Linked DNA regions of Homo sapiens. The protein of the gene in region 3 interacts with the protein of the main gene of each other region in a pairwise test. Each region holds a gene or a part of one and is shown on either strand. Other genes may lie near its edges. The genes, in order: CLEC2B, SEPTIN2, TOR1A, IQSEC1, IQUB, EVL and MGARP.

Region 1 (4,469 bases), on a different chromosome or scaffold from region 3:
ATGGAAACATCATTTCTATACTGGAAAAAGTGAGATCAAGATGGATAACCAGCTTCCCCACCAGCTTGAGTTTCCTGGCAGGAAACTTGCCCCTGCCTTAACACTTGGGAAGCATCGGGGTGCCTGAACGAGGACAGGCAGAGACAAAGTGGGGAGGCAGGACTACCATCCCCAATACCAGAAACTGTGCTCTGTTACTTGGCCAAAGGAGATGTCAACTTAGAGTGGCTGTCGAGCAGCATCATGGTATAGGAGGTTTGTTGCACAGGTCCCCTGGGCTGGAACACCTCGTCAGTCTTCCCACACTACTGGGATATCCCCTTTGGAAGCACCCTCATTTGGTATGAGTGGCACTCTAATTGTTTACTAGAACCAAGGCAAACCTGGGTTAAGGCACCATGTAGTCATAACAAGGAGGCCGAAACCTAGCTGCCGCCCCCCACCCCCAAAAAAATCGACAGGTAAATTACAAGGAATATTTAAACAAACATATTCAATGTAAACCAAAACAAGCCATATAAAATCCTTCAACACAAAGACATAGATGCATATCCATAAGAAACAACAGCAAACAGGGAACTGCGATACCCCTAAATGGACAAAGTCGGAATCAGAGACAGATCTTAATGAAATGGCAATATGTGAGCACTTGTACCAAGAATTCAAAATAGTAGTTTTAAGAAAACTCACTGGTCTCTAAAATAACACAAAAAACAATTCAGAAATATATCAGAGGAATTTAACAAAGGGATTGAAATAATTTTTAAAAATCAAAAAGTGATATTGGAACTGAAAAATACATTTGCTGAACCGAAAATTTTATTAGCGGCTCTCAAAAGAGAATGGATCAAGAAGAAGAAATAATCGGTGAGCATGAGGATGGGCTTTTGAAAATACACAAGGAAAGGAGAAAAAAAGAATAAAAAGGAAGGAAGAATGCCAACATCTTGTAGAAAATTACTGCAAAAGACCATATCTAAGAATTATTGGTGTTTAAGAGAGAGTCAAACCAGAGCAAGAGGTAGAAAGCTTATTCAAAGAAATAATAACAGAAAGTATTACAAAGCTTGAGAAAGAGATAAAGATTCAGGCAGATAAAGGTCAGAGAACACCAAACAGATTCCGACCCCAACAAGACTACCCCTAGGCATAGAATAATCAAACTCTCAAAGGTCAAGGAAAAAGAGAGGATCCTAAAATCAGCAAGAGAAGAGAAGCAAATAATATTTAAAGGAGCTCCAATTTATCTGATGATAGACGTCTCAGTGGAAACCATACAGACCAAGAGAAAAGTGATGACATTTTTTAAGTGCTGAAAAAAAAAAAAAACCCTGCCATCTAAGAATACCATATCCTGCAAAGCTGACCTTCAAATATGAAGAAGAGACAATGTTTCCCAGACAAACAAAAACTGAGAGAATTCACCACCACCAGACATATCTTATAAGAAATGCTAAAGGGAGTTCTTCAACCAAAAAGAAAAAAACACACGAACAGAAAACAGCTGAATATCTAAAATACACTGATAAAATTAAGTGTATGCACAAACCCAGAATACTCTAATACTGTAATTGTGGTGCACAATCTTCTCATATCCCTAGTAATGAAGACTGGAAGATAAATCTATCAAGAACAATGATAACTGCAGAAACCAGTTAAGAGGTAAGCAATAAAAATATGTGAATTGGGAAAACTAAATTAAAAATGTGTGAGGGTGGAGTAAAAGTGTTTTTTTCCTTTGTTGCTATTCTTTGTGATATAAGTTGTTATCTCTTTAAAATAACTTGTTATATCTATAAGATTTTTTATAAGCCTCATAGTAATCACAATGCAAAACCTATAGTAGAGTCATTAAAAATAAAAAGCAACTAATTAATATATACCACCAGAGAAAATTATATAACCCCAAAGAATGACAGTAAGAAAAGAAAAAAGAGAGAAATTTAAAAACAACCATAAAACAAGCAACAAAACAGCCCCAGAAAATCCTTACTTAACAATAACATGGAATTTAAATGAACTCAACTCTCCAATTAAAAGACATAAAGTGCAGGCCGGGTGCAGTGGCTCACGCCTGTAATCCCAGAATTTTGGGAGGCCAAGGCAGGCAGATCATTTGAGGTCAGGAGCTCAAGACTAGCCTGTCCAACATAACGAAACCACATTTCTACTAAAAATACAAAACTTAGCTTGGTGTGGTGGTGTATGCCTGTGATCCTGGCTACTCAGGAGGCTGAGGCAGGAGAGTCGCTTGAATCCAGGAGTTGGAGGCTGCAGTGATCTGAGATCATGCCACTCCACTCCAGCCTGGGCAATAAAGCAAGACTCTCTCAAAAAAAAAAAAAAAAAAAAAGCATAAAGTTAAAGTGGCTGACTTGGTAAAGAGAAAACCCTAACTGTATGCAGCCTACAGGAAATCTGCTTCACCTATAAAGACACACAGAGAATGAAAGTGAAGGGGATGAACAAAGATATTCCATGCAAATAGAAACCAAAAAAGCCGGAGCAGCTATACTTATATCAGATAAAATAGATTACAAAACTTTAAAAGACTACTTTAAAAAGAGACAAAGGTTACTATATAATGCTAAAGAGGTCAATTCAGCAAGAGGATATGACAGTTCTAAAAATCTATGGACCCAACACCAGATCTCCCAAGTATATAAAGCAAACATTCATTGATCTAAAGGGAGAGATAGACTGCAATGCAATAATATTGGGGGACTTTAACTCCTCACCCTGAGTAATGGACAGATAATCTAAACAGGAAATCAACAAGGAATATTGGAGTTATACTGCACACTTTACCAAATATATCCAACTGACACGTACAGAAGCACTGCTGCAGAATACTCATTATTTTTATCAGTACATGGAGCATTCTCCAGAACAGACCACATTGTAGGCCAAAAAACAAGTCTCAATAAATTAAAAAAAGTAGAAATCTAATCAAGTATCTTTTCTGACCACAATGGGATGAAACTAGAAGTCAATAACTTGAGAAACCTCAGAAACTGCACAAACATGAAAATTAAATAATGTGCTCCTTAACGACCAAAGAGTCAATGTTGAAATTAAGAAAATTTTAAAAATTTCTTGAAACAAATGAAAATGGAAGCACAATAAACTAAAATCTGTGGAATGCAGAAAAGCAGTACAAAGAAGGAAGTTTATAGTAATAAATGCCTTTAAAAAAAGGTAAAAAGACTTCAGATAAATAACCTAATGATGAACTTAAAGGATTTGTAAGAGCAAGAACAAACCAAACCCCAAATTAGTAGAAAAAAGAAGTGTTAAAAAATCAAGCTCTTTCTGATGAGGTTTCTTATCTTTCATATATAACCTTATTAATATCATGAATTATTTATTAATTTTCTTTAAACCTCAGGTATCGAAAAGACAGGAAGTTTTTTCTCTGTTTTCAATGCCATGAATCAAGTAAATATGTCAGTATGTCATTCCGTTTTTCTCCCCATGAATTGGCATAATGTAAAAATATAGATGTTAGAGATATCATGATTTCAAAATCTTGATCAAACCTTTGTGGCATGTAATTGTATTTTCTTACCCCCATTTGATCCTATACTCTTCATCCATTAACTAGTACCACTTCTATTTTTTTTTAAAGAGCATATGTGTGTTGTGTTTTTAGAAAGTATAGTTACAACAGGAAGTAAATAAAAGGTAACTTTTGCTATTATTTTTTTCTTGTGTTATAGTTGTCCTGTTTTTAAATATTTTAATTATTTTGTGTGTGTTAAGAGTGTAAAGATTATTTACATTTGCAGCAAGTGGAAGTATTTTTTGAGTCAATTTCATATCTGTTATTTGAAGGAGGTAGTCAGACCATTTTGATATTCTTTCTTCCAGAATGACTGTTGAAAAGAAAACCCTAAGCTGCTTAAATCAATGGCCTTTTCAATTAAAAAAAAATCTAGCTTATTGAAGTAATGTTTCTGAAAATTGTGAAGGGATTTTAAAAAGAGGAAATAACTTCGAGCTAACAGGTAGAGAGAAGGGCAATGCACATCCTGACAATATGAGAAATGACAATTTGCAGATACAGCGGAAAATAGGAGCCCTTTCCATTGCAAAGTTGGCAAGGTATTAGAGTATAAGGACTTGGTGGTGTATACAGAGTTGGTAGATTTTACGTACAGATGACCCCAGCTTCAAAAAAGATGATCGTACTTTAAATGTGGCAAAGAAACAGTGTGGCTTTTGTTATGAGTTCAGCACAAAATAGCAGAGCTAGACCCGAAGAGGTCATTTATATTGGAACATGGTCTTCTCAGGTGTAATCAGTGGAAACTGATGAATGGAGACCATTATAACACTTTGGTGTCTTATACAACCTGGGAAACTTCATATAACCTTGGAAGAAATCTCTCACTCTCAATACCACCAAATGACAGAAAGTAAGTAAACTGTCCTGTCCATTCAGTGGGATGGAGACTTGAAGTAACATT
Region 2 (4,469 bases), on a different chromosome or scaffold from region 3:
GAAAGTGACAGAAAAATAATTTTGCTCCTGAGAAAAATTTTCTAATGAATACACATATATTTGTTCAAATTCTCAAGTTATTTGACTCTGCCAAATTTTCCTCTTTCTTTATAGGTCACGTTATCATACTCCAGAGATTGGAAAGGGGAGATATTTATTTAGTAAGTTGGAGACTATAGATTAATTTCTTACCGACCACCATCAGTGTGAACTCAAAACCTTTTTTCACTGATTTTCGGTGAACTTGATTGGGGAGGTTTGCAAATCCAACATAGCCAGGTGTTTCTGGATTTATAAACTGAGTTGGCTGTTGCTAAATAAGATTAAAAAACAAACAAACTAATAAACACCTTAGTAGTTGCTTTTAAGATATAATCAGTTAGACATGAAACAAACATAGGTTATCAGTTTTCACAAATTTTTTAAAAAGTATAAACACTTCCAGAAGGTCATACTTCTATCAGAAAACCAGTAGTATTCAACTAGGAGCATTAAAAAAAGAAAAACTTATCTAGTATAACTCCTTAGTTGTATGCGACTGAAAATTAACATTTTGTTAATCAGTATTCTGTTTAGGAATTTAACAATACATAGAAGATACATGCTTAATACATCTTAATGCAATTTCAAATTTCGACTTGAGAGACTATGGAGTTCCAGGAAAATCAGTCAAGCTTACAAAGTACTGCTACAGCTGACAGTACTTTGAATGAATGGTTTCATTCAACAAACTTGGCTAAAGAATAGCTTCTCCCAGGTATTAGGTGCAATGCATTTCTGAAAAGTATCGAGGAAAAAAGCATCTCTCTTGCTGTGCTTCTAGCTCTATAGAACAGAGTTTCATCAAGGGTGAGGCAGGCAAATTAGGGGTGGGATGTTGAGTATCTAGTGTCAAAGACCAAGAAAGAAAAGACAGAATGAGAAGATCATAGATGACTACACTGAAGCATCAATATTCCTTGACAGAAGGGTATCTGATGAGAGAGAGGACAGAGATATGAGAAGGCAAGAATAGCAGAAGTAACCAGAATCTAGACAGTGGCATACTGAAAATGAGAAGAAATTTTAAAAATCAATTTATTAATTGAAAAAGGCAAGATACAAAATAGTATTTCCTTTAGGATTACATTTTGTAAATGTATAGTCAAATGCACACACAGGTGAAAAAGAATATATGTAACATATTAACAGTGGTTATTCCTGAGTGGTGAAATAATGACTTTTTTTTTTGCTTATCTGTGTTCCATGCTAACACTGGTATAAAATGCAAAAACTGGTATGATGATTTTGCATTGGACAGTAATGAACACCCACAGGATTCAAAGATAAAAAAAAAACAGAAATAATAATCTTGCAATGTTAACCACAAGTTCTGCTTTTCTCAGAATATGTTCTTTAGCACTAATTTATCTCTGAACTAACTTGCAAAGGCTGATTTAAACCAATTTATCAAGTCTAAGAGCCCCATCAATTTCATCATAATAAATTATCAGAATTCTAAATTATCTGGTCTGCTGGGAATGAACTAAGGGGGCCAAAAGGACTGTTACTGATGTGTGTAGAGAAAAGAAAGTAGAAGCCTGAAAAAAGAGAAAGCTCCAAGCTTTTAAGATGACAATTAGGCCAGGCACGGTGGCTCACACCTGTAATCCCAACACTTCGGGGGGCCAAAGCGGGTGGATCACGAGGTCAACAGATCAAGGCCATCCTGGCCAACACGGTGAAACCCCGAATTTACTAAAATCCAAAAAATTAGCCAGCGTGGTGGCACGTGTCTGCAGTCCCAGCTACTCCGGAGGCTGAGCCAGGGGAATCGCTTGAACGTGGGAGGCAGAAGTTGCAGTGAGCTGAGATCATGCCACTGCACTCCAGCCTGGTGACAGAACAAGACTCCCGTCTCAAAAAAAAAAAAAAAAAGACAACTAAATTAGAACTCTTTGTGTTAATGAATCAAATGTATCAGTTGTATTAAAAATAATGAATCATATAAGTCCCGACTGTCAACAGTCTGAAAACATAAAGCAATTTCTCCTTATGCTGTAGATACATGAAGTATGATCTTACCTTAGACATCTTTTGTGAAGCTTCGTCTGTTAAAAAAAAAACACACAGACACACATAAACGCACATACATAGTATGTATGTATACGCACGTATATTTAACAGCGTGAACTGACCTGAAGAAGACTTACACATACATAGGCAATGTAAAAAGAAAATACAATTTCAGGACCTTCCAAATGCATTAGGCCAAAGGGAAAAGTTAAGCACTGACAGCTGGCTCGTGTAACATCACTACTTTTATTCTTTCTGACTTTTGTGTTTAGATGTATATATTAACCAGACCCCCTATTCTTTATTCAAAACTAGACTAAATGACTGGGAGATGAGAGATCCTTATGACTGTTACTTCTTTACAAAAGGAAGTTAAACAAATCCCTTCAAGTGTAATCAATAGTAGCCAATCAAATTTGTATCTTTAAATGAGCCTTAGTTCCGAAAATGTTATAATTCTGTTTGGCACCTCCATTTTGCCTATATAAACAATCCTCATTTTTCCCCACCCTGGGAGCGCTAATCACCATTCTTTGGTGTAGCTCGCTTACACTCTGTACTTAAATGAATTCTTTTAACTGAATCAGGAGCCTTTTGATTATTTTAGGTGACAGCATCTCAATTACTTCAAATATTTCCCTAGGAATAAGACAAGCATCTATCATTACAAAAATAAATTCGATTAAAAAAATTAGGCCAGACGTGATGCTCACGCCTGTAATTCCAGCACTTTGGGAGGCCGAGGTAGGCAGACCACTTGAGGTCAGGAGTTCAAGACCAGCCTGGCCAACATGGTGAAACCCCATCTCTACTAAAAATACTGATTCAGCCAGGCATGGTGGCGCTTGAGGTCAGGAGTTCAAGACCAGCCTGGCCAACATGGTGAAACCCCGTCTCTACTAAAAATACTGATTCAGCCAGGCGTGGTGGTGCGTGCCTGTGATCCCAGCTACTCAGAAGGCTGAGACAGGAGAATCGCTTGAACCTGGGAGGCGGAGGTTGCAGTGAGCCGAGATCATGCCACTGCACTCCAACCTGGGCAACAGAGTGAGACTCCATTAAAAAAAAAAAAAAAATTAGATGGTGGCTGGGTGCAGTGGCTGACGCCTGTAATCCCAGCAGTTTGGGAAGCAGAGGCAGGACTGCTTGAAGCCAAAAATTCAACACCAATCTGGGCAACATAGCAAAACCCTATCTCTACAAAAAATTAAAAAATTAAAAAAATTTTTAAGTTGATAAAAGCAACTGTATATATATATGTACGCACATATTCCATATTTTCAATAATATTCAAATTTTTTTTCAGTACTGACTATATGTTAGACACTAGGGACACAAATGGGATACACACGGATACATACTTCCCTGACCTCTGGAATTATGTCATTTCCCCTCTCTCTTTGAAACCTTTCAAGGAGTAAGGGACTTCATTACATAGAGCACTGTAACTTGAACATGTTTGCCACCCACTGGAGTTTCCTAGAGCTACCTGAGAACTAGATTTTGACACTGGGGTACAGAGAGCAATGTGAACTACATTTATGAGGAAAGGAAATAGTACTGAAGGCATCTGAGTGTCTGAAAAATGTGACAATATTTTTAAAGATATGTGGAATTTTTTTTTCTCTTTTCTTTTTTTTTTTTTGAGACGGAGTCTCGCATTGTCTCCCGGGCTGAAGTACAGTGGGTGATCTCAGCTCACTGCAACCTCCACCTCCTGGGTTCACGCCCTTCTCCTGCCTCAGCCTCCCGAGTAGCTGGGACTACAGGCGCCCGCCACCATGCCCGGCTAATTTTTTTTTAATTTTTAGTAGAGATGGGGTTTCACTGTGTTAGCCAGGATGGTCTCGATCTCCTGACCTCATGACCCGCCCGCCTCAGCCTCCCAAGGTGCTGGGATTACAGGTGTGAGCCACTGTGCCCAGCCAGAGATATGTGGAATTTTTAAACAAATTTTAGAAACCCTGAAGCTTTGGAAAGCATGGAGTCTGTTGGCTAACCTTCAGTAACAACCCCAAGAAAGATGACTGCTGTCAAATTTGGTTCCCTCTGGAGCTTAGAAACTTATTAAAAAGCTTCTCTCACTTTGCCTCTCGATTCCCCTCCCCCAAATCTTAACTTCCTGAATACTGTGTCCTCTGTTTCCCTTTTGACTGGAAATGTTCCCAGCTACTTTGGAAGAAATGAGATCCCTGCATCCCCAGTGTTATTTGGCTTGGTTAACCAAGGGATAGTAGCAGTAAGGTTCAAGAGCCTTTAATTTCAGCAAAACCTAAGAATTGAGAGCAAGTGTGAGTGTGGAGGAGTAGAACTTCCTAAAGGGAAAGAGAAGGGTCAGATGTAATACAGACAGTTTTGGCAGAAGGAGTTGGCATCTCGTTTTCAAATAATACAGAGATAAGTATCTGATTATG
Region 3 (4,469 bases):
GCTGTTGCTCTTGGGCAATGCAGAGAAAGGGAGGAACTAACAGGTCATCTCTCCCCCTGAGCTGCCCACGGCATCCTTCCTTGCTCAACCACTGGCTCTTTCTTCTACAAAGAAAATCATGTAGCTGAAGAAAATGGGGGAACTGGCCAGGCGTGGTGGCTCACGCCTGTAATCCCAGCACTTTGGGAGGCCGAGGCAGGCGGATCACGAGGTCAGGAGATAAGACCATCCTGGCTAACATGGTGAAACCCCGTTTCTACTAAAAATACAAAAAATTTGCCGAGTGTGGTGGCAGGTGCCTGTAGTCCCAGCTACTCGGCAGGCTGAGGCAGGAGAATGGTGTGAACCTGGGAGGCAGAGCTTGCAGTGAGCCGAGATCGCGCCACTGCACTCCAGCCTGGGCAACAGAGCGAGACTCCATCTCAAAAAAAAAAAAAAAACAGCAGGCCAGGTATGTAGCTCATGCCTATAATTCCAGCACTTTGGGAGGCTGAGGCGGGAGGATGACTTAAGTCCAGGAAGTCAAGACCAGCCTGGGAAACATAGGAAGACCCAGTCTCTACCAAAAAAAAAAAAAAAAAAAAAAAAAAAAATTAGCCAGGCATGGTGGCGCAAGCCTGTGGTTCCACCTACATGGGAAGCTGAGGCTGGAGGATCACTTGAGCCTAGGAAGTCAAGACTCCAGTGAGCTGAGATCACACCACTGGACTCCAGCCTGGGTGACAGAGTGAGACTCTGTCTCAAAAAATAAGCTGAGCACAGTGGCTCACGCCTGTAATCCCAGCACTTTGGGAGGCCGAGGTGGGCGGATCACCTGAGGTAAGAGTTCAAGACCAGCCTGGCCAACATGACAAAACCCCATCTCTACTAAAAATACAAATATTAGCTGGGCATGGTGTGCACCTGTAATCCCAGCTACTCAGGAGGCTGAGGCACAAGAATCGCTTGAGCCCGGGAGGCAGAGGTTGCAGTGAGGCAAGGTTACGCCACTGCACTCCAGCCTAGGTGACAGAGTAAAACTATCTGAAAAATAAAAATAAAACAGCACTTGTCAAACATTAGTGTTCATAAAAGTTACCTGGAGTTCATCAGCAAAGATTCCCCTCATGACTCGGAAGGGGACTGAGAATCTGCATTTCTTTCTACCCAGCTCCCAGGTGATGCTGACAGTGACCCTGATGCTTTTAACACTTAGGGTGCAGGATTAGGAACCAGATGGGACTGGCGGTGGATGGCCCTACTCACTGTTCTTGTTATTGAAAACCGACACAGACAACGCGTGTTCAATGTCTTTGAGCTTGATGTCTTCCCTCTGCTTTCCACTCCTCCAGAAATCCAAAGCCACATCTGTGATCCTTTCTGCTCCAGCATTGCTGCAAAACAATCCCAGTGGGTAAGGACAGGGTTTTCTCCTGGAGCTCAGAGGCTTGGGCTCGGGGCCCATCCATCATGTCCTAGCCCTGACCTTACCTGAGAAATATGAACATGGCTTTCTGGTAGGAGACCCCATCCACCAGGTCATAATAGTCGAGGAAAGGCTTGATGGCATCTATGAGGCCTGCATGCATCTTATCCATTTCATCAAATATGAAGATGGACCTCGCACAGGCACTCACGTTGCCTCGAATCCACAACTGTAACTGATCCTGAATTAAAAGGGGAAAAAGCGAACACAAAGTTCTCAGCCAGGGCCATCAATCAGCTCCTTCTACCACTAAGAACCGCAGCTTCACTTACAGACCACTGTGCACTCGGCACTAAGAACTTTACATGCCCAAAATCTTCTTTGTTCCTACCAACCCCATGGAGTGGGCACTATCGTTCTCATTTTACAGATGAGGGAACTGAGGCACAGAGAGCGCTTACTCCACTTGCCCAAGACTATATGTGGCAGAGCTGGGACCTGAACCCAGTCCTGTCTCACTCCAAAGCCCGATACTTTGGTTACGGTTCCCGCACTGCGAGATGCCACACGGATGCTGTCAGAGATGCTGCTCTTTTGTCATCAAAGGGGCAATGTGGGATGTCATGAGGATACTGATTTTTATTTAAAAAGGGGGTGGGGTCGGGCATGGTGGCTCACACCTGTAATCCCAGCACTTTGGGAGGCTGAGGCAGACGGATAAGTTGAGGTCAGGGGTTTGAGACCAGCCTGGCCAACATGGTGAAACCCCATCTCTATTAAAATACAAAAATTAGGGCCAGGCATGGTGGTTCATGCCTGTAATCCCAGCACTTTGGGAGGCCAAAGTGGGTGGATCACCTGAGGTCAGGAGTTCAAGACCAGCCTGGCCAACATGGTGAAACCTGGTCTCTACTAAAAAAAATACAAAAAAATTAGCTGGGTATGGTGGCAGGTGCTTATAGTCCCAGCTACTCAGGAGGCTGAGGTAGAATTGCATGAACCTGGGAGGCGGAGGTTGCGGTGAGCCAAGATCAAGCCATTGCACTCCAGCGTGGCGACAGAGCAAGACTCCATTAAAAAAAAAAATACAAAAATTAGCCAGGCATAGTGGCAGGCGCCTGTAATCCCAGGTACTTGGGAGGCTGAGGCTTGAGAATCGCTGGAACCTGGGAGGTGGAGGTTGCAGTGAGCTAAGATCACCCCACTGCACTCCAGCACTCCAGCCTGGGAGACAGAGCAAGACTCCGTCTCAAAAAAAAAAAATAATAATAATAATAAATAAATAAAATAAAATAAAATAAATAAATAAAATAAACAAGGATTCACTCAGACCTGTTAGGCTCCAGCAGCCAAGGTTTCTCACTCTGGTGACCAAACTTATATGCAATAACAGGGAACATGCACTGAGTGTTCACTATGGGAACAACAATATTCTAAGCACTGTTCATATAACTTTTTTTTTTTGACAGTCTCGCTCTGTTACCCAGACTGGAGTGCAATGACATGATCTCAGCTCACTGCAACCTCTGCCTCCCAGATTCAAGCGATTCCCTTGCCTCAGCCCCCTGAGTAGCTGAGACTACAGGCACCTGCCACCACGCCCAGCTAATTTTTGTATTTTTAGTAGAGATGGGGTTTCACCATCTTGGCCAGGCTGGTCTTGAACTCTTGACCTTGTGATCCACCCGCTTCGGCCTCCCAAAGTGCTGGGATTACAGGCGCGAGCCACCACACCTGGTCTGTTCATAGAACATTTTACTGTGACCTCCCAAAACCCATCACGGTAGTTACCATTGTGCTCCTTCTTTTACAAATGAGAAAACTGAGGCACAGACAAGTGAAGTAACTTTGCCCAAAGTCACAGTTATTGTTAGTGAAGCCTCAATTCTAAGATGATCAACTTATCCTGATTCGTCTAGAATGGTTCTTGTTTGTTTGGGACAGGGTCTCACTCCGTCACCCAGGCTGGACTGCAGTGGCTGTCTGCTCACTGCAGCCTCGACCTCCCAGGTTCAAGCCATCCTTCTGCCTCAGCCCCCTAAGTAGCTGGGACTACAGGTGCATGCCACCATGCCTGACTAATTTTTTTGTATTTTTTTAGTAGAGATGGGGTTTCACCATGTTCCCCAGGCTGGTCTGGAACTCTTGAGCTCAAGGGATCAGCCGGTTTTGGCTTCCCGTAGTGCTAGAATTATAGGCATGAGCCACCACACCCGTGGAACATTCGCATTTTAGTACAGAACCGCTGGACAGTGGGTGACCCACACGCTCACCCAGACAGAAGGGAAAAATGTGTTCACATTTTTCCATAGATACAGTCAGGGATAAATAACTGATTGAGGCCAGGCATGGTGGCTCATACCTGTAATTTCAGCACTTTGGGAAGTAGAGACAGCTGGATGACCTTGAGGTCAGGAGTTTGAGACCAGCCTGGCCAACAAGGTGAAACCCTGTCTCTATTAAAAATACAAAAATTAGCTGGGTGTGGTGGCAGGTGCCTGTAATACCAGCTACTTGGGAGGCTGAGGCAGCAGAATCACTTGAATCCGGGAGGCAGAGTTTGCGGTGAGCCGAGATCAAGATCCAGATGGTGCTACTGCACTCCAGCCTGGGTGACAAGAATGAAACTCAGTCTCAAAAATAAATAAATAAATAATTGACTGTTTTGCCCATCTTGCAGGTCTGCTACAAGGATCTAAAAGGCAACAGTTAACATTTATTTGTAACATGCACCAGGTACATGTTATGCACTTGACAGACAGAGCTCCCTGGATTGTTACAAGCAACACTTTGTAAGTCAGAATCTGAGTCTCAGGTCAGGCAACTTTCCTAAGACTACGGAGCTGGGAGAGTGTTAGGACTCAAATCCAGATGTGTCTGCTGCCAAAGCCCAAGCTGCTCATCAGTGAGTTCAACCATAAAAGCTGTTTGCGGCTGGGCAAGGTGGCTCACGCCTGTAATCCTAGCACTCTGGGAGGCTGAGGTAGGCAGATCACTTGAGGTCAGGAGTTCGAGACCAGCCTGGCCAATGTGAGGAAACCCCATCTCTACTAGAAATACAAAA
Region 4 (3,912 bases), on a different chromosome or scaffold from region 3:
TGGAGATTAACAAAGTGCTTGGTTTGCAGATTTGCTGGTACGGTGATCTCAATGATATGACCGAGGGTGGGAGGGATGTGAGGAGGGAAATCGGCAAAACCCTGGCCAGCCAGCCAGCCAAGGTGACACACAGCCAGAGGGGGCTCCCCTCTCCTCCTGCCGTCCGGCCACGGCTCACCACGCTGTCCACTGGGAACGCGGCCCCGCGGCCCGCAGAGTCAGGCGTGAGCTTCGCCCTTTCTGAAAGGGCCTCCGCCTGGGCAGGCGCCGGGGGGCAGTCCTCGGGTCCCATGGCTTAGGAGCACAGCACTGACGGCTGCAGTGGCTCGAAAGGCTGAAACTACAAAGTATGGCCCGTGGGTGACTCGGGCACAGACCTGCCGCGTGCAGGTCTGGCCCTGGGGAGCGCATGGTGTCACCACAACACAGAAGCGACAAGAGCACAGCTGAGAGTCATGTGATGCCCTGGCAGCTCACTGGACCATGGGAAGGCAGCGGGGGCTCCGCCGGGCACTCGTCGGCTGGGGTCACACGGGCCACGGTGAGGACACAGGGGTTCTGCTAGCACATGGCTACATGGAATTACGGTGATCACTGCTACCACTCAGAAAACAAAACGGGAAACACACACACCGCCCTGGGTTGCTAAACGCTAAAGTCAACCTTCAGGTTCGAGAGTGGTTCCTGATGAAAACACTCTCTGAGGGCTTCGGCCTGGTGTGGGTTGGAGGCGGGATGAGGACGTTATGGTGTTGGGGAGACGAGGATGAGAGCTGGTCACTTTCATGTTGGAGATGAACACTTCTGCCGTGTATGGGTGCCCCTCTCGGAGGACTCTGAATGAGTGTGCGTCAAATCATATGCGCATAAAAGAAACATGGATCATGGAGAGTCACAGTTATCGCAGCCATTAAAGTGTCTAAGAATCCGTGTAACCAATGTCCTAAGACAACCAGCTTGTAACCAGCTGTCCTGAGTTGCTACTGTAGAGTGTACTGCAGTTTAGCTATTTGCTTACCTGAAATAACAGCATTATAATACTATTTATGATAGTATTCTGTTAATAAAATAAGGATTTATACAAAGCAATACTGGACTTTTTAAACAGTTAGATGCTATGTTACTTGGCACAGTTAGTAATGATTGTGTAAAGATTTTAGCCAGTCCTAGAGGGACTTCTTTGTATGAAAATATGAAGTATCTGAATTTGTTCCTAGCATTTAGGGTTTGGTCTATTGTCTCACACACCCAGCTAAGGTACTGTCTTCCTATTAGGTAAGTGGAGCTCCTTGTAAGGTGGGTATTGCTAATGTGGACTGAAACGCCTGCCTTTCACACACAAGTACTACCTATACAGTATATATATATATATATTTATATATTTATATATTTATATAAAGTTTACTTACGTATTTTCATCAACCATATCAGGTCTACTTATTTTTTTGCCCATTGTCAATAAAAGAGCAATAATGCAGCAAGTTTTGGGGTTTGTTTTGTCTGTTTTTGTATCTCATTTCTTCGTTTTCTAGGTTGGGTTTTCATATGCATGTACATTAGGGCACAGGGAGCTGAGAGCTGGAGTGGGGGAGGCAGTTCAACACTACTTGGCTGGCTCACCGTTTCAAGGCTGATGGTGTCTGAGGCCCACCCATCCCTCAGACTGAGGTGAGCAGAGCCCAGGGTGCCAACAAGAAATGAAATCTGGGCCTTTGTTCCACACAACACCAGCCCTGTGGGCTCCTGGGGCTCCGGTTGGGCCGTGAGGGGCAGAGGGGAGAGATGGCAACAGAAGTGCCCCGGGTTTGGTGTGCGGCTGGCGACCCCCGGGCGTGCCCTGTGTGGTGTGCAGGTGTTTCAGGGAGCCTGGGACCCCTACCCAGGCTGTCTACACAATTGTGCTGATGCCGCTGGGTTTGGCCTTGCTGCTGGTGGGGGGCGGCGGGGCAGGGGGCTGCCCATGGTGGTGCACTGTGTGCCCCACGTGGGCCGAGGGCAGCGGCGGGTGGCCGTGGGCATGGGCCCCGTAGGCTGGGTGGCCCCCATGGGGGCCGTGGTGGTACTGGTGTGCGTGCTGGATGTGCTGGGGTGGGTGGTGGTGGTGGTGATGGTGGTACGGGGGAGGGTTCTGCATGTGGCAGTACTGGGTGTGATGCCCGTGCATGGCGGCCTGCGGCAGCCCCTCTGGGGGCCCCAGGTGGTGGCCAGCCACAGAGTGCTGCAAGTGAGGCAGGACCACCGGTGGGTGGGGGGGTGGCAGGGCTGGGGCTGAGGGCAGGTGGGCCTGGGGAGGGGGCTTCCCTCTCTTGCTCCCGAATAAGGAGCCCAGGAGGGAAGATGAGTTGGGCATAGTCTGGTGTGGGCGAGATGGACACTCTCGTGTTGATGTAGCTCTCCGGCGCATGTGAGGACTGCTAATGATGGACCCCTAAAAAGGAAATTCATAGAAATCAAAATTAAAAGATCTTCAAGCACTTAGGTCAGAATGATTTTTTTTTTTCAAATGTAAAAATTCACCCACTGACTGCTAAGCTTTAGTTCAACTCACTGGCCAGAGGGTGGGGCTCAGTGAGGCTGGACTGGGCCCCGCCTCCTCTCACTACAGTGCAGGGCAGCTGGGGGTTACTGGCCTTGACCAAAGTGGGGAGTGAGGGCAGGGGAGGGGCCCATCTCTCTGACCACCACGGCAGAAGTAGGACTTCTGGTCTCATTCTGACAAGCACTTTGGCCCTGGCAGCAGCCTGAGATTTCAAATTGGAACCCCTAGGTTGGGGTGTCTGTGCGCTGTGTGTGGCGAGTGCAGAGGGGCTGATGTGCCTGGAGGAGGAGCCCTGCTCCTGCTGAAAACAGGGCCCTCAGCTCTCCTGGGACTGCTCAACTGGGCTGAGGGCATGTGCTCCGCCCATGTGGGTCCTGAGGTCTCGGGGGAGGTGGTGACAGGGACAGGTGGGGCTCAGAAACCTTGTCCTCTGGGAGAATGGGCTGCCTAGGCATTTCACTACAGCTGCCTACTACAAACCAAACAAGGAAAAAGAAGGTAACAGAAAAAGATCTGCAAGCTGAGGTAGAGATGTGAACAGTAATACAGAGATGGCCGGAGGATGAGTGAAATATCATGAAATCCACACTGAATCTCTTTCTCTCAAGACACTCCTCCTCCCACAAGCTAAGCAATTCCATGGTGTCCTGCCGCAGACACACAGCAATCAAACTCCAAGAAGAAAGCGATGAGGATGGGCGGGCGTGGAAGTCAAGGGTTCAGCAAAAACATCCAACAGCAAGTGTGGAGGGTGAGTGGGAGCCGGGTGGCCCGGGCGGGGGTGCCGGAAGCTGGGGATGGTCAACCATGCTCAGGGACCACAGGTGATGGGGTTAAGCAGAAACCAAAACACAAAATCCAGAACCACCCCCACTGTTGAGTCCAAAACAAGCGGTGAGAGGCATGGATATTTCTAGGCACAGAGGAGAAGCTGACATGCACAGGGTTCCAGGCAGGCAGGGGCAGGGAGTGGGTGTCTGCATCTCTGTGCAGTAGGGGAAGGAAAAGCCAAAAAAAAAAACAACAAAAAAAAAACCAAAAAAAAAAAAAAAAAAAAAAAACCAGGACAACAGATATGAACTGAGGACTGGGGAAGGCGACACAGGACAGCCAGCTGGACAGAGGCGCTTCCTACTTACTTCCACATTGCTCTCTAGCGATCCCGCACTGCTGCGACGCCCTCGCTTCCCTGCCCAGAACATGCAATACCAGAAGTTAGACGCGGACATGAGGCTGGGGGTGCTGCCTGCCTGGTGCCACGCTGCTGCCACGGAGCCTGCACCCCTGCTGGGAGCAGGCACAGGTGCCGGGCCCACCTGCCCGCAGGAGCCAGGTGTGAGGGGTCGGAGGAGGGGCTCAGTGGGGAAGCCAGC
Region 5 (3,791 bases), on a different chromosome or scaffold from region 3:
CAGTATGCTAATTTTACCTGAATATAATCTTAATAATACTATAATGTTACCATAATAAACATATGGTATTGAATGATCTTTAAAATTCATTAGTAAGTACCATCTTAATTTCAGGGCCATTGTAGGGACCTTTTAAAACCTTTTACTGCCATTTTACAAATGAGGAAGCTGAGATTTTTTTTTTTTAATATGGAACACTTCACAAGTTTGCATGTCATCCTTGTCCAAGGGCCATGCTAATCTTCTCTATATGGTTCCAATTTCAGTATATGGGCTGCTGAAGCAAACACAGGAAGTTGAGATTTAATAAAGATAAGTAATTCACTTAGTGTTAATTAAAAGACTTGGTTGTTTTAATCAAAAAGAGGGGTAATGAAATAGCTGTTTAAAACTTTTTAAAAAACGTAAATCTTATCAGCTAAAACTCTTGGAATGACTTTTTATCATGGGGTCTGCATTATAAATTTAGAATTGCCAGAGACGGACAAACTCAACAAAGTATAAGCATGTAAAAAGAATATTTTTTAAAAAAGCTTCTGTGAAAAAGTGTGAGAGCAGAAATATTTTCTGTAAAATGAGTACACAAAACCTAAACAATCTGCCAAAGTAAAAAACAAAAAGAACCTGTCATCATCAGCTACAACAGTATTTCATAAATTGGTAATTCAATATATTAAGCTCAACTAATGCATTCTAGCTTTTACTTAATGCTAAAAAAGACAATACTCTGTACACAGCTGCTATGAAAAATAAATTTATAGACCTTTAAAATTCAATGTTTTATATATTTTACTTACATTCAAAATGCATCTTGTTTACATTTTTGTTTTTAATTTAGTTGCTCAACTGTACTAATAATTTTGAAATTGTATCATACAGAATAACGTGTTTATTTGCATGTAAATGTCAAATGTGCACATAAGTGTGGTTGACAGTCTCTAAGAGCTTTCTACCTTTCAAGTAGTCATTGTACTTGAAATTTTTGCAGTAACAGAGCAATACTATTGCCTATTATATTAGGCAGTATTTGTATGCATTACAGATAAACGAGGTGACTAGTACAACACTCAAATCTCTTGTCTAAGCAGAATGTTTACTTTTTATATATATTAACTTTCACCTTTTCATTTTACATGGCATCATGTTCACATTTAACATATGCTAATCTTTGCTGTTGTCCACAAGATTTACTATTTATGAGAATGTTCAAACATTCAAATTATGCCTCAAATACTATTACTGAAATAAATATTAATCAAAACTACACCAATTACAAGGGGGGGGAAGCTACTGGACACTCATATTTGTCTGCTAATCCTAGACATTGGAAAAGTAATAGACCAAAACCCTACATAGATACGGTACTGAAATTAAATCACATCTAATGGAGATTATCCTTATCTGAAAGGTTACAATGCTCCCCTAGAATTTTTTCATTCAATATGTGTAATGGTTGATTTTACATCAACTTGATGATGCCACCGGATACCCAGATATTTGGTCAAACGGTATTCTGGTGTTTATGTGAGGGTAGTTTTGGATGAGATTAACATTTAAGTAAGTCAGTAGACTGAGTAAAGCAGAGTGTCTTCCATAATGTGAGTGGGCTTTATCCAATCAGTTGAAGGCCTGAATAGAACAAAAAGTTCACCCTGTCCCCAAGTAAGGAAGACTGTTTCTGCCTAATGGCCATTGAATTGAGACACTGGCTCCTCCTGGCTCTATAGCAGCCTGCTGGTCATCAGACTTGAACTGGGCCATCAGCTGTTTAGGTTTTAGACTTACCAGCCTCCACAATTATGTGAGCAAATTCCTTGTAACAAATCTCCTTATATGTATATATATATAACATATATGTATAACATTTTCTATTGGTTCTGTTTCTCAGGAGAAATCTGACTAATACAACATGGAATATTGAGCCAGCACTTCTTGGTGACTTACATTAAAGCCCTAGTACATCTAAGATTCTCTACAAGGAAATATACATCTGTCATGTCAATAATTCCTGAATAAAAGTAGCAAATAAGAATTTAAGCTGAAATAAACATCAAATTTATTAACAAAATATTCATTCTATTGGACAAAATATGTAATCATTTTAATTTGTGCTTTTCAAACTGTGGGTTGCTACCTCTTGGGTGATACCAAAGTTTTCCAAATGGAAATCAGAATAAGTAGACTGAGATTGAATAGAAAATATCAGAGTACATCCATAGGGGTAAAGATAAACACTATTTTGGAAACTTTTATTTCTGAGGCAGAACAGCATGTGTTTACATGTACGGATGCTGGGAATCAGACTGCCTAGTTTTCAATCCTGGTGCTGGTACTTAGTAGCGTAAACTTGGACAAGTTAGTTAACCACTCAGTGCTTCCCTTTCCTCACCTGCAGAATGGAAATAATGCCTATTTTGATAGGATTTTTGTGCTGATTAACTCAATAAAGTGTGTAAAGCCATATAGGTACTGAGTATTGAGAATTATCATGCATGCCTATATCAGGTTGTCATAAAAATACATTTTTACTATAGATTGAGATTTAAAAGTTTGAAAGCTATGGATTTAGAAGAATTTTTTAACAAAGCACATCACATTTGGTATCTTTTTTTTAATCTCTATAAAGTTTTCTATTCATAGTAGTGCCTACTTTCCTATTTGGTATTAAATACAATTTAGTTCATTTTAATTAGTAACTAATTTACAGAAAATTTGCCCTTATTTGACAGTCTGTGAACACAAATATCATTAATGAGGTCAATTGTGCTCTATAATATACTTTTATTAATAAGTGGCTAATGTTGGGTAGCCATATCAACAACAAGTAAGTCCTTCTGTTTTCTCACTTGCTTACCTAAGTCCAAACAGTGTCAGGAATTTGTTTTTATTTTGTAGAGACACAGACTATCCTCTGGCCTAAACCCAATAGAAGACATGGAATAACCAAAGAGACCGAAGTAGTGGTTAAGTTAGGAATTCAGGTCAGAATTCCTGATCTCACAGGCTCCACCCTCTCACAGAGCTAGAAGTTCTTACGAGAAGCAGATTACGTAGGGTCAATGATCCAATGCAATGATTCATCCAAAAGAACTCTGGCCAGAAACTTTCCAGTTGTGTGGTATCATATCAACACTTTACATAGACAAGTATCAAAGCCTTTCCCTAAGGTTTTTTTTTTTTTTTACTTTCTATAAGCCTTAGCTTTCACTTTTGGTGTTATTTACCATTATGGTCACATTTGGTTTACACTAATTATTACTGTTATTCGTAAACACTAGTATGTGTATATGTAACATCAGTTTCTGTAAAAGTCATTCATTCATTCAACAAATATTGAGGGCCTTAAATAAAAACTTGGTACTGTATTAGGTTATAGAGGTATAATGGTGAGCAGGAGGGAAAAAAAGCATACTCCTGCCCTCACAGAGCTTACAGTCTAGTGGAATAGAGAGTCATTAAACAATCACACACACACACACAAACATACATAAGATTGCAAGATAGCCTCCTTGACAAGCTTCAGCTATAATTGGCACCCCTTATTGACCATACCTGCATCAAGAAAGCAATTTTAGAATCATCTTCATAATCAGCTTCTGTATAGTAGAGCTGTTGAAGTAAACATTTGTACTTCAAAAATGATTCTCGTTTTTGAGCCTCATTCTGAAGGTTAATGCAGTTACGACACCGGTATATGCGGCGTGAGGTGGATGATACAGAAAATTCTGTAGAAGGCAAATAAAGCTGGCAACTGTGGCAAAAGTAAATCTTCTTATAAAATTTCAATGGGT
Region 6 (4,469 bases), on a different chromosome or scaffold from region 3:
GCATGGCATGTGCGTCAGGATGGTTTTTCAGCATCAGGAACATGCCACTGATTAAGTAATAAGAGTAATCCTTCCACTTGATGAAGCAGAATGCACAGCATTTGAGCTGTTGACAGGCGGCCACCCAACCTGATGTGTCATTCTGATCTGAAGCAAAGAACCTCTCCCTTGTCACCGTGGGCAGAGGTCTTTGCTTTGTCTCCTCTGCTCACTACATCCCCACACGAGAATCAGGAACGCCCTGCGTATCTGTGTGGTGAACGAGTAAGTCCCGGGAGGCTCTGGTCGAGAGGCAAAAGCAGGTGCCAGCCTGCAGGTGCTGGGATGAGGTTCTCAGGCCTCCTCATTTTAAAGACAGCTGAATAACAGATTATGTCAATCAACACACACATGTGGGGGCCACGATGAAAGCGATACAGGGTGACATCAGAGTCACTAAAAAATTATCATCTTTTCTTGTATGTTATTTTTTTAAAACCCTCCCTGCTTAAAAGGGAAGTTATGCTTTGACTCTAGGCTGGGAAAGAGGTGGCCGCAGCACTCCCAGGCCCTGGGCACAGAGACTTGCACCCCACCTCTGGCAGTCGCACAGTCTGTGAGGCGGCCATGCCTGGGTGCAGGTTTTCAGGTGGTGGAACTGGTCCTCGGAGCAGTAACTCCATTGGCCCAGGGCCAGCTCTGCCATGGCAGAGGGCCTGCCCAAGTCACCGGACTCCACATTTGGGGCTCTTTTCGTCTTTCAAATAAGCCTTCTTTCTTCTCTGTTAATGATAAACTTAGTGCATGTTCACTGCAGAGAATTGGGGAAATACCAGGAAGCATGAACAAGAAAACGAGTGCCGGCCATCAGCCTCTCTCCCTCCCACTGCACTTGTGTGGTGTGTGGATCTTCTGAAGGCCCTGCTCTCTTTAGACGCTAGTCCTGGGTATGAGAAGGGACCATGGCAAACAAGAACCAGCTGTAGCCAGGGGCCTGTGAAAAACAAGACAGAAAAGATGGGGGTCTGAGGAGGAGAGTGCTATCCTTGGGGTTGAAGGTTTCAAGAATGTTCCTCTTCCAGAAGCCCCTGGGCTTTGAAATCCATTCTTCTTAGAGCTCCAGGAGCGAGAGTTTTAGTTTTCAGGGGCTGGGACTGCAACATACTGGCACCTGACTAAGAAAGGCCAGCGATGTCTTCAGATCCCCAGGGCTGTGGCTGGAGCGAGGCCACAGTATTTTGATGTCTGTGATTATCCCGTGGCCTGCAATTTCAGAAATTCATGGCAAGTCAGTTGGCTAAACTCCACAGCATGTGCAAGGTATGGGAATGGTGGACGTGTGAGAAGCCCAGGCCTCGCCCTCCAAGGGCCTAAGATCTGGCAGGAGACAACGAGTCTCCACAAGCAGTCGTGCCTGTGCAGAGGGCCTCGGGAGAAGACCGGGGCTGGGATCAAGTAGTGAGGAGCTTTGTGAGGCCTGGGGGTCGGGAGGCTGTTTTTTTGTTGTTGTTGTTTGTTTTGTTTTTGAGACGGAGTCTCGTTCTTGTTGCCCAGGCTGGAGTGCAATGGTGCGATCTCTGCTCACTACAACCTCCGCCTCCCAGGTTCAAGCAATTCTCCTGCCTCAGCCTCCCGAGTAGCTGGGATTACAGGCATGCGCCACCATGCCCCGCTAATTTTGTATTTTTAGTAGAGATGACGTTTCACTATGTTGGCCAGGCTGGTCTCAAACTCCTGACCTCAGGTGATCCGTCTGCCTCGGCCTCCCAAAGTGCTGGGACTACAAGTGTGAAGTGTTGAGCCGGCCGGGAGGCTGTTTTTTAAGGTGTAAGGGTGATGCAGGGAAGTGCAGGCTGAATGGGAGTTGGCTGGTGGGGCAAAGGGACCCATATGTGCCCAGGACGGGGCTGAGAGGCGTGGATCAGCTGGGAGGGCTATAGCCTCAGGGTAACACCAGCATGACCCTGACTGATGGGAGGACAGGGCAGGAAGCCTGCTCTGGTCCCTGGCAGTTTTATTTCCTCTCTGATTCTGCACTGAGGTGGAACCTTCAAGGCATTTGTAGTTAAGGCTAAACTTAGCCCTGTCAGTAGGAGTCTTTTTATAGGAAAAGCTTAACATGGAGGAAAAGAGAATTAGCCGCCCTAACTGGAAGCAGATGTTGGGAGCTCTGGCAGCCAGGCTGGCTCTGGGCTGCCTGGTAAGGACAAGAGCCAGGGGTCCAGGGCTCCTTTGCCACAGCTCACCTGAAGCTCCTGCTGGAAGAGGAGTCTTTAGAAACAGAAATAATTTGAAAATAAAAACCTCTCTGGGCTTCTGGCAGACGTGCCCCTCTGCAGTGTACTCCTGGAGTCCCAGTCCCGCCGAGACCCTGGCTGGTCTGTGCTCCCCGGGGCTCCTGGGAAGGCGAGGTAGCCCTGCGGTGCAGCGGCCAGCGCCTCAGGCTGCAGCTCCAAGGGTGGAGCAGTGTCTGGTAGGGGGTGCTCAGTGAGGGCAGGCCTGCTGCTGGGGCCAGGGTGGCGCAGGGACAAGCACCGCAGAGACCCTCCGCCCCTCCTGTGAATCACCTGATGAAGCGCCCATCCCACGCATGTCCCAAAGGCCTCGCCTGAGACCAGAGAGCCTCCCTGGCGATGCGCTCATCTCAGTGGGGAGCCTGAGGGTGGGGCGGGCTGCTTGCTCACCATTTGGCTTTCATCTTCCTTCTTCTCGGCTGGCTTGTCTGACTGGGAGGCTGCTTTTCTCCTAGGCACAGAGAAGGGGAAGATACAGATCAGCTCCTCACGTTCTCTCACTGTCCCAGAACTCTTCTGCCTCCACCCTGCCAGACTCACCCCGGTCCTCAGATAAACCTGTGTGGGAAAACGATGGCGTGAAGGAGGCGGCTTGTCTAGGCCCCGTCTGGTGAGGAGCCAGGCCCAGGCAAATGTCCAGGCCCTCCGTGTGGTCATGGCCTGGGACACAAAACTGGTCTAGGCAGAGAGGGCGAGATGCCTCTATGTCTGTTTAGCTCTACTGGCAGCAGCTGTAGCATCTGAGGCGTGGAGGGGAGGCGGGCACGCTCTGTCCCCAGGACACTGAAGGCCTGGCCACACGGGACAGAGAGGCATCTCTCTGGGCTGCAGTCTGTCCCACAGGTCGGGACACTGGACACTTTCTTGTGTCACTCTAAGGCCCTTGTGTCTTGGAACTCAGTTAACCCAGCCACGCCCTCCCCAATCTAGAATGCCACTCAGAGCCTGGAAATGCTCAGAAGAGGAGCCCTGGAATAGGTCCACGTGACGCCCTTGAGTCGGTTCGTGCACCTCCCCAGTATGAATCCCCGTTTCATGTACTCTAAAACCTCACCCATATTTTTTGGCCTCAGTGGTATCTGCTGACCTCCCAGGTCTACAGAGGCAGGCAGACCCTCAGTGTTTCCCAGAGATACGCTTCTGTGGCTTTTCAACTTGAGATGAGCTGCCCATCAAGCATGGAGCTGGTCTGAGGTGTGATAATGGGCCGTGGCCAGGCTGTCACCTGTCTGTGATGGGCCTACCTGGCAGCCTCCTCAGCTACAGCAGGGGCCCCCTTCTTTAGCTCCCATCTCAGGACAGGTCTGCCCACCTCGTCCCTCAGCCCAGAAACCAGGGAATCATCCCTGACACCAGCTTCTTATAACTGTCAGCCTGGTCAGTTCTCTAAATCTGGGTACCTGCCTGTCTTTTTTGTCTTCACCTTCAACACCTTCCTGCATGCCCCTATCATCTCTTCCTGGACTGTCAGAGTCTCCTAACTGGCCTAGCCACGATCACTTACACCTCACCAGCTACCCCCCAGCAGCCAGTGTCCCATCTCCTAGAAACAGAACGCTGACCAAGCCACCTGCTCACGGGGAGTGTAGGCGGGATGAGTGTCTGTGAAAGTGCTGCTGAACAGGAGCTTTCTGTCCACGTTCATTTCCCTCCTGCCCTCCACTGTTGGGAGACTCAACTGCATGCCCTCAGAGGCGGGAGACAACCTACATGAAAAGAAACCTGGCAAGGGCACTTTCATCGTCGGCTCCACCCAGTAGCCATCACTGAGGTGGATTTCAGAGAGCACCTGATTGATCCCTGCTGAGCTATGCAAAGCATGTTTGTTCTTGGGAGGGCCTTGACTCTCCCACCGGCATCTGGCATCTCACTGGCTCCTGGCAATACTGGCCTTTTCCTGTTCTCAGACAGAAAGGTGCTTCCCCTCAGCTTGGTCTAGGACTTAGGGAAAGCATTCATATTTTCTTTTCCAAAACTATTTCTATTTCTCTGTGGCCCATCCTCGCCTCTGAGTGCTCTGAGGTGGAACCCGATGCCCTGCACCAGGAGGCTCCCTCTTCCAGCCTGACTTTTGGTCCATTTCCTCCACACCTAGCTCTCCAGGCACAGGGGGCGTCAGCCTTCCCAGCCTTACCTTAACTCTGCCCACTGTCCCTCTTACAGCACGGGACGTCCTCATCGTTCTGCGAGCCCTCC
Region 7 (4,469 bases), on a different chromosome or scaffold from region 3:
TTAAGTAGTCTTCTTTGGCCTGTATTCATATTAGAAAATGATATAAAAAATGAAAATCTCATTATTCAGTTACTATTGTTTGTATTAATTTAGCTTTTAAGAAAATGTTGGTAGTGGTTTAACTTTTAATGGTAAGATGATAGATTTCTAAAATTTATTTATATATAGTGTCTTCTAAATTTTTAACCATCAGAAACCAAGTACCTTATTTAAAAATTGTACTACTTAATTACAAACAATTTTACAGTGTAAAAATTATGCTGTGAAAATAGAATGTCTGTAATGTCGGGGCCGGGTGCAATGGTCCACACCTGTAATCCCAGCACTTTGGGAGGCTGAGGCCAGCGGATCACCTGAGGTCGGGAGTTTGAGACCAGCCTGACCAACATGAGAAATCTGGTCTCTACTAAAAATACAAAATTAGCCGGGCGTGGTGGCGCATGCCTGTAATCCCAGCTACTCGGGAGGCTGAGGCAGGAGAATCACTTGAACCCTGTAGGCAGAGGTTGCAGTGAGCCGAGATCGCACCATTGCATTCCAGCCTGGGAAAGGAGGGAAACTCCGTCTCAAAAAAAAAAAAAAAAGAAAGAAAGAAAAGAAAAGAAAATCTGGGTCAAGCCTGTAATCGCAGCACTTTGGGAGGCCGAGGCAGGCGGATCATGAGGTCAGGAGATGGAGACCATCCTGGCTAACATGGTGAAACCCCATCTCTACAAAAAGTACAAAAAATTAGCCAGGAGTGGTGGCGGGCGCCTGTAGTCCCAACTACTCGGGAGGCTGAGGCAGGAGAATGGCGTGAACCCAGGAGGTGGAGCTTGCAGTGAGCAGAGATCGTACCACTGCACTCCAGCCTGGGCGACAGAGCGAGACCGCGTCTGAAAAAAAAAAAAAAAAAAAGAAAAGAAAATCTATAATGTCGGGTAGAAGTGATGTAAAGTGACCCTTTTATAGCAAACTTCCCGGGGTTTAGTGAACTCAGACTTGAATCATTTGGCTTTGAAACATACAGAGCAAATATGATCAACGGGAATGATAATCAACATTTTCTGTATAAAAGCAAGGAATATTTTCCGAGTAGGGTGTGTGTTCCTGACACCTTGTAGGACCAATATGATAAGTCAGTATCCCCAGTTCTCAGTACACAAACCGAACCAGTACACAAGTTCACATCCCTGAAAGGATCATTCCAGGAACAACATTCCAAGGGACATTAGTCTCATTGCTCAAGGGGCTAAAACACAAGGCAAGAAAAAAGACTAACTTTAGGGAGAATTGAAGAGATACAATACTAGAATAATTCACCCTAATGTGTGGCCCAAAGAATCTAGGTTTTCCAAATCCAGCACAGTCGAGCACAGAGTAGAATAAAGGCCTATTAAAAGAGAGGGTCTCAAATTTAGACTTTGGCAGTTATTTACAAATGATATTAAGTATTTATTAAGTATAAGCATTTAAAATATACTACAATTTTTATAAGCCAGTCTGGTACTACTTTTTAAGATATACCAGACCAGGCCGGGCATGGTGGCTCACATCTGTAATCTCAGCACTTTGGGAGGCCGAGGCGGGTGGATCACCTGAGGTCAGGAGTTCGAGACCAGCCTGGCCAACATGGTGAAACCTCATCTCTACTAAAAATACAAAAATTAGCCAGGCGTGGTGGCAGGCGCCTGTAATCCCAGCTGCTCAGGGGGCCGAGGCAGGAGAATCGCTTGAACCCGGGAGGCGGAGGTTGCAGTGAGATGAGATTGCGCCATCGCACTCCAGCCTGGGGGACAAGAGATACCCAGACCCTCAAAAAAACTGGAGTGATCTGGGCCTCTTTCAGATTCCAATGACCCCTAATAGTCGAGGATTTTGATTGCAAATGGAAAACTGCTTTTGGCTACTAAGCATCTGTGGGGTCAATTCATAAAAATCTAATATAGAGATTATTTTAGTACAGGACATGAAATGGAAGGGGAGAACAAGTATACAGGTTTTGGAGTGCCTTACATTCAGCATTTCCTCCTGAAAGTAGCCTAAGATTCCTGGCAATTAAGGCTTCCAACATTTGAGATTAAAATCACATAAACTTAGAAATGGAAGGGAACAACTTCCATCCCTACTGTGAGAGAACAAGGCCAGAAAGGGTTCTCAGGGATGGCTGGTTTATAAATGTATAACCTTTTAGTTTAAGATTCCTTTTGCAACCAGTGAGTTAGCAGTCTGGCAAAGTTTGTTTTTGGCACTGGTACATATTAATATAATCAGGGGTATAGTGATGTCCAAATGAAATTCATCCTTCTAGCTTCCCAGCCTATCACATGGCCTAGTCTCAATCTCTGTTTTTTTTTTTTGGTGGCCTACACCTCAACTAGAGTGGGTTTGAGCCATGAATTCAACATTAAACAGTAGAAAGATGACAGAACAAAGGAATCTGGGCACAAGTGAAAGCTGGCAGATTAGTAGAGGACAACAATATAAGTGACAAGTTTGCAGTTTCCTGACTCCTTGAGGCTCTCAAAATTCTGAAGATTATGACTAGCCTTAAAAAAATTTCTAGGCCGGGCTTGGTGGCTTATGCCTGTAATCCCAGCACTTTGGGAGGCCGAGGCAGGAAGATCACGAGGTCAGGAGATCAAGACCATACTGGCTAACACAGTGAAACCCCGTCTCTACTAAAAATACAAAAAAAAATTAGCTGGGCGTGGTAGTGGGCACCTGTAGTCCCAGCTACTCAGGAGGCTGAGGCAGGAGAATGGCGTGAACCCGGGAGGTGGAGCTTGCAGTGAGCCGAGATTGCATCACTGCACTCCAGCCTGGACGAGAGCGAGACTCTGTCCCCTCCCAAAAAAAAAAAAAAAAAAATTCTGAGGATTAGAATATGTATTTTGGTTTGGTTTGGTTTGGCCATCTTACATAGTCCTATGAAACTGCTTCTAGTTATGACTAAACATCTCTTTATTCATATTTCTTTTTTTTTTTTTTTTTTTGAGACGGAGTCTCACTCTGTCACCCAGGCTGAGTGCAGTGGTGCAATCTTGGCTCACTGCAACCTCCGCCTCCCCGGTTCAAGCAATTCTCTGCCTCAGCCTCCAGAGTAGCTGGGATTACAGGTGCCCGCCACCACGCCCGGCTAATTTTTGTATTTTTAGTAGAAATGGGGTTTCACCATTTCTTGACCAGGCTGGTCTTGAACTCCTGAACTCGTGATCCACCCACCTTGGCCTCCCAAAGTACTGGGTTTACAGGTGTGAGCCACCGGCCCGGCTTTATTCATATTTCCGTAGGTCCAAACCAAAATATAGTGACTGTGTACTCTTAGAGTTTACAAAGAATTTCTGCTTATTCTACTTTTATTCTTTACATTTTTTGTAGAGATGGGGTCCCGCTATGTTGGCCAGGCAGGTCTCAAACTCCTGCAAGCAATTCTCCTGCCTTGGCCTCCAACGTGCTGGGATTATAGGCGTAAGCCACCACTACAGGCTCTACTTTTATTCTTTTTTATTTATTATTATTTTTTTTGAGACAGGGTCTTGTTCTGTTGACCAGGCTTGAGTGCAGTGGTGCAATCTCAGCTCACTGCAGCCTTAACTTCCCAGGCTCAAGCGATCCTCCCATCAAAGCCTCCCAAGTACCTAGGACCACAGGCACACACCACCACGCTGGGCTAATTTTTTTATTTTTTATTGTAGAAATGAGGTCTCACTGTGTTCCCCAGACTGGTCTCAAACTCCCGGACTCAAGCCTCCCAAAGTGCTGGGATTACAGGCATGAGCCACCGCATTACTTTTATTCTTTTTTTTTTTTTTTTTTTTTTGAGACAGAGTCTGGCTCTCTCACCCAGCCTGGAGTGCAGTGGCACAATCTCAGCTCACTGCGACCTCCACCTCCTGGGTTCAAGTGATTCTCCTGCCTCAGCCTCCTGAGTAGCTATGATTACAGGCACCTGCCACCATGCCTGGCTCATTTTTGTATTTTAGCACAGATGAGGCTTCACCATGTTGGCCAGGCTGGTCTTGAACTCCTGACCTCAGGTGATCTGCCCACCTTGACCTCCCAAAGTGCTGAGATTACAGGCGTGAGCCACCATGACTGGCCTACTTTTATTCTTAATAAAGATTATATTTTGATTTAGAAAGTTTATGACAAAATGGTGAATGACTCAAGTCTTAACTTACTTAACTAAAAAATGTCTGTCATTTTAGTCCCAAAATCTCACTATTAAAACCTTTGTCTTACAGGGTTTACCTGGAGGGAATGGACATGGGGACTGGGAAGGAAAATATGCTTTTCACTTTATATATGTCTATGTTGCATTTTTTAGAAACTTATGAACAAATATGAATTTTTCAAATAATAAAACTGTGTGAAAATTTAAAACTAACAAAAATTATGGAGACAGTAAAAAGATTGGGAGGAGAGAGGGAGAAATGAGTAGGTGGAGTAGAGGGATTTTTAGGGTGATGAAACGACTCTGTATGATA

Evidence for each region.
Region 1: the proteins of TOR1A (region 3) and CLEC2B interact in binary tests that used the Homo sapiens proteins (3 or more experiments, as listed by UniProt).
Region 2: the proteins of TOR1A (region 3) and SEPTIN2 interact in binary tests that used the Homo sapiens proteins (3 or more experiments, as listed by UniProt).
Region 4: the proteins of TOR1A (region 3) and IQSEC1 interact in binary tests that used the Homo sapiens proteins (3 or more experiments, as listed by UniProt).
Region 5: the proteins of TOR1A (region 3) and IQUB interact in binary tests that used the Homo sapiens proteins (3 or more experiments, as listed by UniProt).
Region 6: the proteins of TOR1A (region 3) and EVL interact in binary tests that used the Homo sapiens proteins (3 or more experiments, as listed by UniProt).
Region 7: the proteins of TOR1A (region 3) and MGARP interact in binary tests that used the Homo sapiens proteins (3 or more experiments, as listed by UniProt).

What each region holds. Positions count from the first base shown.
Region 1 is NC_000012.12:9,862,849-9,867,317, forward strand, and holds part of CLEC2B (C-type lectin domain family 2 member B), read right to left. Parts: intron 1-4,469. UniProt on the Homo sapiens protein: Membrane-bound protein expressed on myeloid cells which acts as a ligand to stimulate the activating receptor NKp80/KLRF1, expressed on the surface of natural killer (NK) cells.
Region 2 is NC_000002.12:241,321,837-241,326,305, reverse strand, and holds part of SEPTIN2 (septin-2), read right to left. Parts: intron 2,091-4,469; coding exon of another isoform or gene 2,074-2,090; coding exon 2,065-2,073; intron 314-2,064; coding exon 193-313; intron 1-192.
Region 3 is NC_000009.12:129,817,275-129,821,743, forward strand, and holds part of TOR1A (torsin-1A precursor), read right to left. Parts: intron 1,647-4,469; coding exon 1,471-1,646; intron 1,374-1,470; coding exon 1,246-1,373; intron 1-1,245. UniProt on the Homo sapiens protein: Protein with chaperone functions important for the control of protein folding, processing, stability and localization as well as for the reduction of misfolded protein aggregates.
Region 4 is NC_000003.12:12,899,095-12,903,006, forward strand, and holds part of IQSEC1 (IQ motif and SEC7 domain-containing protein 1), read right to left. Parts: intron 3,729-3,912; coding exon 3,679-3,728; intron 2,429-3,678; coding exon 1,889-2,428; 3' UTR 341-1,888; coding exon of another isoform or gene 296-340; 3' UTR 1-295. UniProt on the Homo sapiens protein: Guanine nucleotide exchange factor for ARF1 and ARF6. Guanine nucleotide exchange factor activity is enhanced by lipid binding. Accelerates GTP binding by ARFs of all three classes.
Region 5 is NC_000007.14:123,457,805-123,461,595, forward strand, and holds part of IQUB (IQ motif and ubiquitin-like domain-containing protein), read right to left. Parts: coding exon 3,553-3,791; intron 1-3,552. UniProt on the Homo sapiens protein: Adapter protein that anchors the radial spoke 1 (RS1) complex to the A microtubule of outer doublet microtubules in axonemes. The triple radial spokes (RS1, RS2 and RS3) are required to modulate beating of the sperm flagellum.
Region 6 is NC_000014.9:100,130,974-100,135,442, reverse strand, and holds part of EVL (ena/VASP-like protein), read right to left. Parts: exon of another isoform or gene 2,725-4,469; coding exon 2,664-2,724; intron 2,397-2,663; coding exon of another isoform or gene 2,284-2,396; intron 1,243-2,283; coding exon of another isoform or gene 1,155-1,242; exon of another isoform or gene 1-1,154. UniProt on the Homo sapiens protein: Ena/VASP proteins are actin-associated proteins involved in a range of processes dependent on cytoskeleton remodeling and cell polarity such as axon guidance and lamellipodial and filopodial dynamics in migrating cells.
Region 7 is NC_000004.12:139,269,731-139,274,199, forward strand, and holds part of MGARP (protein MGARP), read right to left. Parts: intron 1-4,469. UniProt on the Homo sapiens protein: Plays a role in the trafficking of mitochondria along microtubules. Regulates the kinesin-mediated axonal transport of mitochondria to nerve terminals along microtubules during hypoxia.